Linked DNA regions of Homo sapiens: region 1 is linked to region 2. Evidence: fine-mapped expression QTL. A gene starts in region 2. The other region holds a variant in brackets. All regions are shown on one strand. Distances are between the middles of the regions.

What was found. PIP is the estimated chance that this variant, and not a neighbour inherited with it, causes the effect. A credible set is the group of variants that fine-mapping cannot tell apart.
Region 1: its variant is the best candidate, but not a certain one, in a credible set for the expression of STARD3 in whole blood (TOPMed, PIP 0.52).

What each region holds. Positions count from the first base shown.
Region 1 is chr17:39,655,271-39,660,270 of GRCh38, forward strand. It overlaps STARD3 (StAR related lipid transfer domain containing 3), which reads left to right. Exons shown (of 15, transcript NM_006804.4): 3 at 1,738-1,815; 4 at 2,505-2,582; 5 at 2,703-2,756; 6 at 3,135-3,252; 7 at 3,452-3,550; 8 at 3,781-3,836; 9 at 4,191-4,283; 10 at 4,941-5,000. Among named protein-coding and RNA genes, the nearest start is that of TCAP, 7.6 kb to the right of the region's middle. RefSeq lists an enhancer at 2,946-3,821. The variant C/T (reference allele first, on the strand shown) is at 2,777.
Region 2 is chr17:39,633,916-39,639,423 of GRCh38, forward strand. It overlaps STARD3 (StAR related lipid transfer domain containing 3), which reads left to right and starts at 3,229. Exons shown (of 15, transcript NM_006804.4): 1 at 3,229-3,316. It overlaps PPP1R1B (protein phosphatase 1 regulatory inhibitor subunit 1B), which reads left to right. Exons shown (of 7, transcript NM_032192.4): 5 at 1-171; 6 at 1,692-1,811; 7 at 1,901-2,709. The coding sequence ends at 1,950. LOC124903998 (a long non-coding RNA gene) reads right to left here and starts at 3,375. Exons shown (of 2, transcript XR_007065749.1): 1 at 3,076-3,375; 2 at 723-1,111. RefSeq lists enhancers at 1,374-1,997, 3,781-3,900 and a silencer at 3,171-3,240.

The sequences.
Region 1 (5,000 bases), 21 kb after region 2:
CAACTCCTAGATTCAAGGGTTCCTCCCACCTCAGCCTCCCCAGTAGCTGGGACCACAGGTGCATGACCACATTTGGCTATTTTTTTTTTTTTTGGTAGAGATGGAGTCTCACTATGTTGCCCAGGCTGGTCTCAAACTCCTGGGCTCAAGTGATCCTCCCATCTCGGCCTCTCACAGTGCTGGGATTAGAGGCATGAGCCACTGTGCCTGGCCTCTGTAATTGTGCTTTTGAAGTTATTTGGCTGTGTTGGCTGCGATTGCTCTGCAGTCCTCATGCGTACCTGGGAATTCTTGCAAAGTGAGAAGATCTAACTTACTAATTGTTTTCAGATGTCATGAAACATTTCAGAATCCTGCACTGAACAATTAGTAGAGTCCACATGATGTTTCCCTTGGCAGACATTTAATTAAAATTGTATTGATTTTCAGTCTTGTAGTTTTACTTTTGTATTTGGGAGCATATATTTTTAGTTCGCTGACAGACTGTGTCTGTGTTGCCCAGTGGTTACAAGGACTCAGTAGGGTCGTGCTGAGCAGGGGGTTTGGAGCCAGAGAGTGGCAAAGCAGGGGCTGAGACTTGGCTCTCCCGAGTCCTGATCGGTCAGCACCGGTGGGTGCCCAGGCTGGAAAGAGGAAGGAGGACAGAGCTCTGAGGCCTAGTGACTGAGGGTGGAAGGGGCTGCAGAGCCCAGGGCAGAGTCTGAGGAGCAAGAGGAGTGCTGGGTGGTGTGGGTTGGGTGGGATGGGGTGGGTGGGTGGCAGGCCTGGGGGCCTCACCGGCAGCCAGAGGAGAGGTGGCATCAGATTTCATGGAGCTGGGGTGGGCTTGAGGAAGAGGCACATGGTGGGGCTGTGTGCTCAGTGGGGGAGCATCTGTATCTTTAACAAGCCCCCCCAGATTTGGCTGCCCTGCTGGAGAGCGGAAGCCCCAGTCTAGGCGGTTGTGAGGGGTCTTCCTCTCCAGGGCTCCTGGGCTCCATCGCCCAGAGTCCCTGTGTCCTCCCTTCTCCAGGGTGGCTGGTGCCCCACCTGAAGGAGCCTAGGCCCGTCACCCCCGTCATTCCAAGGAGTCAGGTCGCAGTCTGGCCTGGTGTCCATCCAGTTCCCTCAAACCTCTGGACATTGGAGTCAGGGCCAAGGCCTCAGGGGTCCTGGTGAAAATGTCTGGTGGGCTGGGGTAGGGACAGGGGCAAGGACACATCCACTCCGTCTCCACTTCACCCTCTCAAGCAGCGTGATGGATTTTGCCCATTAAGCATAAACCTAATCAATTGATTTGCCACCTGAGGCTCCGTCTGACACCACTGCCCACCCCCACCCCCCATCAGCCCAGATGGATTATGGCTGGGAAGATGGAGCACCGCAGTGCTGGGAGGGAGATGGGATTCTGTCAGAGGTGGGCTTTCGGCGCCCTTCTGCTGGCCCTGTATAGGGCGCATTGCCTCCCCTGCACAGCCCCGAAGCCTCCAAGCCTGCCCCTTCCTGGGCAGGGTGCTGGAAGCTAGCCCTGCCCATCGGGGCGGCCTGGATCCTTAGAGGACTGGTATTGGTGCCTGAGGTCTCTGGCCGTGGGCTGAGATCCCTTGGTGCTTCCAGGGCCCCCTGGGTGGTGGCTTAGCATCAACAGCCTCCCCTCCAGGTTCCTCCATCCCCTACCTCTTGCCCCTTCCGGGAGGTGAGGGGCAGCCCCAGGCCCTTGCTTCTACCTGCAGAGCTCTTCCTGTCTCCCTCTCACAGACCAACACAGGCATCCGTAAGAACTTGGAGCAGGAGATCATCCAGTACAACTTTAAAACTTCCTTCTTCGACATCTTTGTGAGTGGCCTTGGCTGATCCTGGGGACCCCGGAGGCAGAGAGGGAGCAGGGAAATGACTTCTGCTGGGTTCTCTTTTGGCAGCATATATCCAGTCTGATCAGAGACTCGGCTCCCATCCTTCGGGAGCCATCAGTCATTAAAACCTTTGCTCCACAAGGCTGGGCGCAGTGGCTCACGCCTGTAATCCTAGCACCTTGGGAGGCTGAGGTGGGTGGATCACTTGAGGTTAGGAGTTCGAAACCAGCTTGGCCATCATGGTGAAACCCCGCCTCTACTAAAAATACAAAAAATTAGCTGAGCATGGTGGTTCGCACCCATAATCCCAGCTACTTGGGAGGCTGAGGCAGGAGAATCACTTGAACCTGGGAGGCGGAGGTTGCAGTGAGCTGAGACCGTGCCACCGCACTCCAGCCTGGGCGACAGAGCGAGACTCTGTCTCAAAAAAAAAAAAAAACCTTTCCTCCACAAAGCCCCCTTCAGAGAGCCCCAGGTGGGAGAGGGAAGATAAGACCCCTGTGCAAGGTTACATCCAAATTGTCCCAGAGACATGCTGACTCAGTCGTTGTCCCCTGAGGTGTGCATGCCCATAGGAAGGGAACGTGGGGGCAGGACCAGAGGGGAGGTCAGCCTGCAGCAGGGTGGGGGGCAGTAGCTTCCTGTGACTGCCTTGCTCCCGTCCCCCACCAGGTCCTGGCCTTCTTCCGCTTCTCTGGACTGCTCCTAGGCTATGCCGTGCTGCGGCTCCGGCACTGGTGGGTGATTGCGGTAAGATGCCACTTTCCTGGCAGCTTCTGGGCCCTGGCAGGGCTGGTGGAAGGGATGGGATGGAGGAGGACTCACTTCCCAGCCTCTGCCTTCCCCTTCCTCCCTCCCTCCCCTGGGCAGGTCACGACGCTGGTGTCCAGTGCATTCCTCATTGTCAAGGTCATCCTCTCTGAGGTCAGTGGCTCAGGGTCTGG[C/T]CAGTCTGGTGGGCATCAGACCTGAGTGGTATGCTTCTAGAGAGGAGCATTTCTCTAATTTGGGGTGTCTGTCCCTGTTGTCCGGGTTAGGGGGAGAGGGAATCCTGTCCTTTGGTATCTATAAGGAATCATCCTTCACCCGCTTCCCTGACTTAGCCCCTTGCAGCTCTAGGAATCAGAAGGTTCTTTCTCCAGCCTAACCCCAGTTTATCCTGCTGCAGACTTGAGAGGGTTCCCAAGCAGCTGCTACCAGGAATGGGGTGTATGCCAGTTTGGCTGGCTAGAGTTGGTAGCCACAGAAGGGGGCTCTGGGTTTGGGGTGACCCCTGCCATGGAGCTCAGCCCCCTCCCTTCACAGCTGCTCAGCAAAGGGGCATTTGGCTACCTGCTCCCCATCGTCTCTTTTGTCCTCGCCTGGTTGGAGACCTGGTTCCTTGACTTCAAAGTCCTACCCCAGGAAGCTGAAGAGGAGCGATGTGAGTGCTTGCGGGTAGGGGGGTGCAGCGAGGGTTACCCACAGCCCCAAGAGAGGGGAGTTGCGGGCATGAGAGTCAGTCTGAAGCATCTCGCCACCTCTGAGCAGCCTCCAGTAGCCTGAGGGGGAGCTTGGGTGGGGGTACCCCAGGCTGCTAGGGTGTAACTGTCCTCGGTCCGGGACCGAGTCTGCTCCTCCAGGGTATCTTGCCGCCCAGGTTGCTGTTGCCCGTGGACCCCTGCTGTTCTCCGGTGCTCTGTCCGAGGGACAGTTCTATTCACCCCCAGAATCCTTTGCAGGTGAGGGCTGGTGTGTGGGGGAACTGCTTTCAGGGAGGGGCCTTGTGAGGAATGGGGTAGGCTGGGTCTGTTCTTTCTATTCCTTCTATCAGGCTCCCTGGGGAAAGCCAGCAACCCTCTCCCACACACTTTTATCCCCCACATCCTTGCACTCACATACCCGAACCCCACTACCTCCCCACACTCTCTCCCCACCCCTTGCCATTGTCATCTGTGCCTGTTTTCTGCAGGGTCTGACAATGAATCAGATGAAGAAGTTGCTGGGAAGAAAAGTTTCTCTGCTCAGGTATTTGCCTGCCTACCCCTAACCCCTGCCCTTGGAATGGGTGCCTGGAGGAGGGCGGGTGCAGGGGTCAGCCGGGGTGGGCAGGGGTTTCCCAGTAGAGGCTGAACCTCGGGCAATGCCCATCCGAGTGTCTCCCCCACCACCAGTCCGGCCCCCCTGGTCTGCCTCATGCCTGGGCACACAGGTGGAGCAGCCACAAGCCTGCAGGGCCCAGGGAGACCAGCCCAGATCCCACATGTGGCTGGGCCAGGCCCCTCTGGGAAGCATGTGGTATGTCTAGAGAGAGAACAGGCCACGAACATGGTGGACTGCAGGCCCCAGGCTGACCCCTCCCTGCCTCCTGCTTCCGTCCAGGAGCGGGAGTACATCCGCCAGGGGAAGGAGGCCACGGCAGTGGTGGACCAGATCTTGGCCCAGGAAGAGAACTGGAAGTTTGAGAAGAATAATGTAAGAAGCCCTCTCCCACCTGACCTTCCCATGCGTGTTAGGAGTTTCTGTTCTCTTTTCTGAGGCCTGAGGAAGAAACCCAAAGATTACATGGGTTGGAGCCATATTCCTGCCCCAAGAGAGGGAGCTGGGCCCTCGGGTCGGCAGGAGGCTGGGCTGGATTGGACGTTTCCCCCGTGCCCCTTGGCCCCCCTTCCCCGCACCCCCCATGTTTACTTCCCTGCTGTTCTGCCCCCTTGGCTCCAGGCTTTGAAGGGGAAGCCAGGCTTCTGCTCTGCATCCGTTGTTTCGTTTCATGATCAAAACAACATTATCTACAAAGATCGTAGAGAGCTTGGAAAACAGAGAGCAACATGCCCCAGTCCCTCTCTCTGGCCAGTTCTTGTGGCAGCCCCATTGGCCTGGAGACATGGTTTTTTGTGGTTGCAGCTGCAGCTGTCCCCCCGTCTTTTAACTCGACATCAAAAGCCTCTCTCCTGCCAGTGCCATAGGTTTGTTAGAGCTACTGTTTTGTAACAGCTGCTCAGGTGTCCCCAAACTCCTGGAGTTTTCCACCCTGAGCTGTTAAAAACCTGCCCTGCCTGTCACCCATTTCTGTGCCACCAGCCCACCCCCTGCCTCCACTCTCCTCCCTGCCACCTTCTGTCCCTGCCATAGGAATATGGGGACACCGTGTACACCATTGAAGTTCCCTTTCACGGCAAGACGTTTATCCTG
Region 2 (5,508 bases):
CTATCAGCAATTTGAATGAGAACCAGGCCTCAGAGGAGGAGGATGAGCTGGGGGAGCTTCGGGAGCTGGGTTATCCAAGAGAGGAAGATGAGGAGGAAGAGGAGGATGATGAAGAAGAGGAAGAAGAAGAGGACAGCCAGGCTGAAGTCCTGAAGGTCATCAGGCAGTCTGGTAAGCTGAGGGGCCTGTGACATGTGGATTAGCTGTGGGTCCTCCTTGAGTATACGAGGACGTCCCCTTCTAGTTCAGTGTCTCATACACGCAAACTGTAGTGACACCACAGGGGCCTCCCTGTCTTCTCGCTCCATGGGGTGCCCCGAACTCAGCCCTACCTGAGACATGGGTTTCCTCCATCCTTGGCTCAGTCCCTCTCCCAATCAGGTTTTCCCTAATAATTCCTCTCTTCCCTGAGAATTAAGGCCAAGGCCGTTTGGGGTTTGAGGCTAGAGCCAAAAGAGGACTTCCCACCTATGGCAGTAAGGGGGCGTGAGGACATTCAGGGATGGAGGACCAGGAGAGTCCAACACCCCTGTCACCTGCATTTCACCTACATTTTTGAACCTAGGATGTGGTCTCTGCTGGGGTGCAGAGGGCTGCCTCATTTACTTGCCCTCTCCAGGACTGTTGTCTGTTTCTCCTCTTTTTCCTTCCTAGGATGGAGTGGGAGGGTGCCCTCTAGTGTTTAGATGTAGAATTTAAAATTCAAGAACCAGCCCGGCCCATTAACCTTTTTAGTCTCATTATTTATGGGAATACTGAAGAGTCAACCACCCCTACTAGAAGCTGTCAGCTCTTCCACACAAACAAAAGGCCTTGGGCCTCCTGCCTGCATATCTGGCAGTGAAGAGATTGGCCATGGGGGCAAAAGCTGTTGCTGGGCTTCAGTCCCTTTGTGGGCAAGAGACAGCTGGAAGACCTGAATCAGTCCTCACTGAGACCCCTCCAAAACAGTGGAAGAGGGGTGAGAGGAGACTGTTCCCTCAGGAAAAGCAGCAGGTGGCTGGGTGCGGTGGCTCATGCCTGTAATTCCAGCACTTTGGGATGCCAAGGCTAGCGGATCACTTGAGGTCTGGAGTTCAAGACCAGTCCAGCCAACATGGTGAAACCCCATCTGTAATAAAAATACAAAAATTAGCCAGGCACAGTGGCACACACCTGTAATCCCAGCTGCTTGGGAGGCTGAGGCAGAAGAATCCCCTGAACCTGGGAGGTGGAAGTTGCAGTGAGCTGAGATCGCACCACTGCACTCCAGCCTGGGCAACAGAGTGAGACTCCATCTCAAAAACAAAAACAAAAAACCAAAACAAAACAACAAAAAAAAACAAACAAACAAAAAATGCAGAAGGGCACCGGGTCAAATGATAGTCCTATGATGGAGCAATATAAACCACCACGACTCCTAGTGGCTCCTGGGTGCTGGCGCTGGGCTGGGCAGGGTATTCACTATTACATCTTGTTTAAGGTAATCTACACAATTTCCCCCTTTCTATTTCCTTCAGAAAGGTACTAACTGACTTACGTAAGCCATATGGCTAGTTGCTGGGAGAGCTGTTCTAGCCCAGTTCTCTCTCCATGCTTCCATGATGCCCCTGGAAAGCTTAACCTCAGCCATCAGACACTTAGCTCACACTCCAGGACAGCCGGATGGATACGCAGAGCCTGTGTTCTTATCTCTTCTTTCCCATCCCCAGCTGGGCAAAAGACAACCTGTGGCCAGGGTCTGGAAGGGCCCTGGGAGCGCCCACCCCCTCTGGATGAGTCCGAGAGAGATGGAGGCTCTGAGGACCAAGTGGAAGACCCAGCACTAAGTGGTAAGGCTTGGGAGTGTGAAATGGGGAGGAGGGGCTGGGATCTTGGTGGGTGGGGCCAGGCCCTGAGTCCCTCTCTGCTTGCCTTTCAGAGCCTGGGGAGGAACCTCAGCGCCCTTCCCCCTCTGAGCCTGGCACATAGGCACCCAGCCTGCATCTCCCAGGAGGAAGTGGAGGGGACATCGCTGTTCCCCAGAAACCCACTCTATCCTCACCCTGTTTTGTGCTCTTCCCCTCGCCTGCTAGGGCTGCGGCTTCTGACTTCTAGAAGACTAAGGCTGGTCTGTGTTTGCTTGTTTGCCCACCTTTGGCTGATACCCAGAGAACCTGGGCACTTGCTGCCTGATGCCCACCCCTGCCAGTCATTCCTCCATTCACCCAGCGGGAGGTGGGATGTGAGACAGCCCACATTGGAAAATCCAGAAAACCGGGAACAGGGATTTGCCCTTCACAATTCTACTCCCCAGATCCTCTCCCCTGGACACAGGAGACCCACAGGGCAGGACCCTAAGATCTGGGGAAAGGAGGTCCTGAGAACCTTGAGGTACCCTTAGATCCTTTTCTACCCACTTTCCTATGGAGGATTCCAAGTCACCACTTCTCTCACCGGCTTCTACCAGGGTCCAGGACTAAGGCGTTTTTCTCCATAGCCTCAACATTTTGGGAATCTTCCCTTAATCACCCTTGCTCCTCCTGGGTGCCTGGAAGATGGACTGGCAGAGACCTCTTTGTTGCGTTTTGTGCTTTGATGCCAGGAATGCCGCCTAGTTTATGTCCCCGGTGGGGCACACAGCGGGGGGCGCCAGGTTTTCCTTGTCCCCCAGCTGCTCTGCCCCTTTCCCCTTCTTCCCTGACTCCAGGCCTGAACCCCTCCCGTGCTGTAATAAATCTTTGTAAATAACTGCTGAGACTCCTCTTTCAGGGGAAGCAGGAGGAAAAGGGAGGTAATGGGGCGTCCTGATAGGGAAGGCCGGTGGTCAACCAAGGGTTAGGGTTTTGACCCTACTGTCCAATCCTCTAGTCTAGGAGTCTTTCTGGCAGACAGCAGGCTCGGGGCACTCAGAGGAAGAACTACAGAAGTTCTAGCTGCTGCTTGGGATGGCTGAAGGAGGCAGGTGGGGTGGGGAAGTCCTTCTCGAATAACTGGATTCCTCCAAAGATTTCCCCATCCCCACAGGACTCCCCTCGGGAAATTCCCCTTTTTCCCTCAGTGCCAGGCCTGTGTGGCCTAATAACGACGGCCCTGGTCTTCTTCCCACTCCCCTACCCTTAGGTAGGCCCTTAGACTCCGGCCTTTGAGTCCGCTTCTGCGCAGGGCCGGGGCTGGAGGCGGGGCGAAGGGGCGGGGCCGCAGGCGAACGCAAGTCCCGCTTCGCTCTCGGGGGCGGACTCAGCGGCGGAAGTGGCGCTGCCGGAAGATCTTCTTCCGCTCTGAGGCGCTACTGAGGCCGCGGAGCCGGACTGCGGTTGGGGCGGGAAGAGCCGGGGCCGTGGCTGACATGGAGCAGGTGGGTCCCGGAGCGGTCGCTGGGAGCGGGTGGCGTGCGAGGGCCGTCTTCCGCCGGTCGAACCCGCTTCGCCGCCCGCTGTCCGTGCTGGGTTCCGTCCGACCCTTCCCACACCCGCTGCGTCTCAGGTTCCGCCCCCTTCCTCTGTCTGGCCTCGCGCCGCCCCGCGCGGGTTGGGGTCTCCAGCAATGACTCTTGGCGACCCCGCCTATCCTGGGGAGCCCGGGGAGGACGTTCGGGATCTCCTTCCAAAGCCTCCGTCTTAACTGAGGGGAGAGGAGAGGGTGAGGTGTCTGGGTGTTATGAGCAGGGGCAGGTATGGGGAGGGGTCGGAATCTGGGGTGAGAGGAAAACATCTACGCATTCCGGTAGCTCTGCGTCTCAGTGTCATCCCGTGTCTCCCCAACTTCCTTTCGAAACGGCCGTGAATAACTTCCTAATTGGTATTAAAAGGGCCCTTTGAAGTCTTGAGTTCTTAGAGGTGCATAGTACCATTGACACTCATTTCTAATGACACGTTCCCTCACCCCGCATTTTTGGGTTAGTCAATGTCTCCTGGTTTTCTTCGTACCGCTCTGACAGTCGGTCAAAGTCCCGCTTCACGTTTTCCTCTGTCGCCCAACCCCTCGCTCTGTACACTGAATCTCAGTGGTCTTATTTTCCCCCACGGCTTCAGCTTTACACCAACTAAATACCCAGATCCACATCTTCAGCGCAGCCCTTCCCTGGAGCTCCACGCTTGCCCATCCAGCGGCCATTGGGACAGCTCTGCTTCACATGGAGCTCACTGGGTCCAAACTTGAACTGGTCTTTTCCTTGCAGATTAATTCTTCCTCTACCCCAACCCAGCCGGAAGTCTGGTAATTTCCTTACACTTTCTCCTCTCTTTCAAGTCCCACATCTTAAAAGTGACCTAGTACTGCCAACTTCCTGAACATCCTTCAAACCTGGGCCAGCTCCATCTCTTCTGTTACCACGCTGTTGATGTATTGTCAATTCCCAACAGTCCAGCCCTGGCAGCTTGCAACCCAGTCTCCAAACTGTAACTCTTGTGATCCTTTTAGAACACAAGTCTTACGGTGCCAGTTCCTTGCTGATAACCTTTTTCTGGCTTTCTATTGCCTATGTGCTGAACCCCTAGCACAATTTACACAGCTCTCTGTGATCTGACCTAGCAGTCTCCTGTGTGCACCCTAAGGTCCAATAATACGGCACTGCAGCATGCGCCATGCCTACCCTTGCTGTTCGTATCTTCATGACTTTGCACACACCAGCCCCCGCTGCTTGGAAACCTCCTCCTTCTCTTGTCTGCTGGGCTACCTTCTACATGTTTTTCAGCGCAGGCAGCGCTGCCTCCGCCTAACCCCCAAGGTTAATTGCCCTTCTGTGTCCTGTAGCACCCTGTCCATAATAGCATAGTAGCTGAGAATACAGACTCCTGGATCAGACTGCCTGGGTTCTGACCTGTTTGGTAACCTTGATGAAGTCAGTGCCTCAATTTCCTCACTTGTAAAATGGAGGTAGGAATGTCTCTACTTCATAGAGTTGTGAGGATTGAATGGAATATTGTATGTTTAGGTCTTAAACCAGTGCTAGGCACAAGAATGCTCAATAAATTAAAGTGAGTTGCCTGGGTGCAGTGGCTCATGCATTAATCCTAGTACTTTGGGAGGCAAGGCAGGATGATCGCTTGAGGCCAGGGGTTTGCAACTAGCTTGGGCAACATAGTGAGACCCCATCGCTACAAAAATTTAAAAAACTAGCTGAGCATGGTGGTACGTGTGGGAGGATCCTTTGAGCCCAGGAATTTGAAGTTACAACGAGATATGGTTGTGCCACTGCACTCTAGTGTGAGGGACAGAGTGAGATCCTGTTTCTAAAATAAATAAATAAAAAGTTATTACTATTATGTAAGGACAACATAGTTCACCAGTTATGATTTTTAATTTCATAAGTTGCCTGAGGATGGTTGAAGTGGCTTACTAGTCATTGGATAGAGCCTGGCTCTTTGCCAATAAATAAAATGCTGGAGTGGAGGACACTGGGGGCAGGGTCTGGATTTATTGAGTGAAGATTCAAGAGTGAAAAAGGCTCAGACCTGGTCTGCTCAGGAAAACCAGTCTGGAAGTGTGTGTGTGTTACATGGCAAGCATTAAATCTAGAGAAATGTATAGATCTGGGAACTAGAGGGA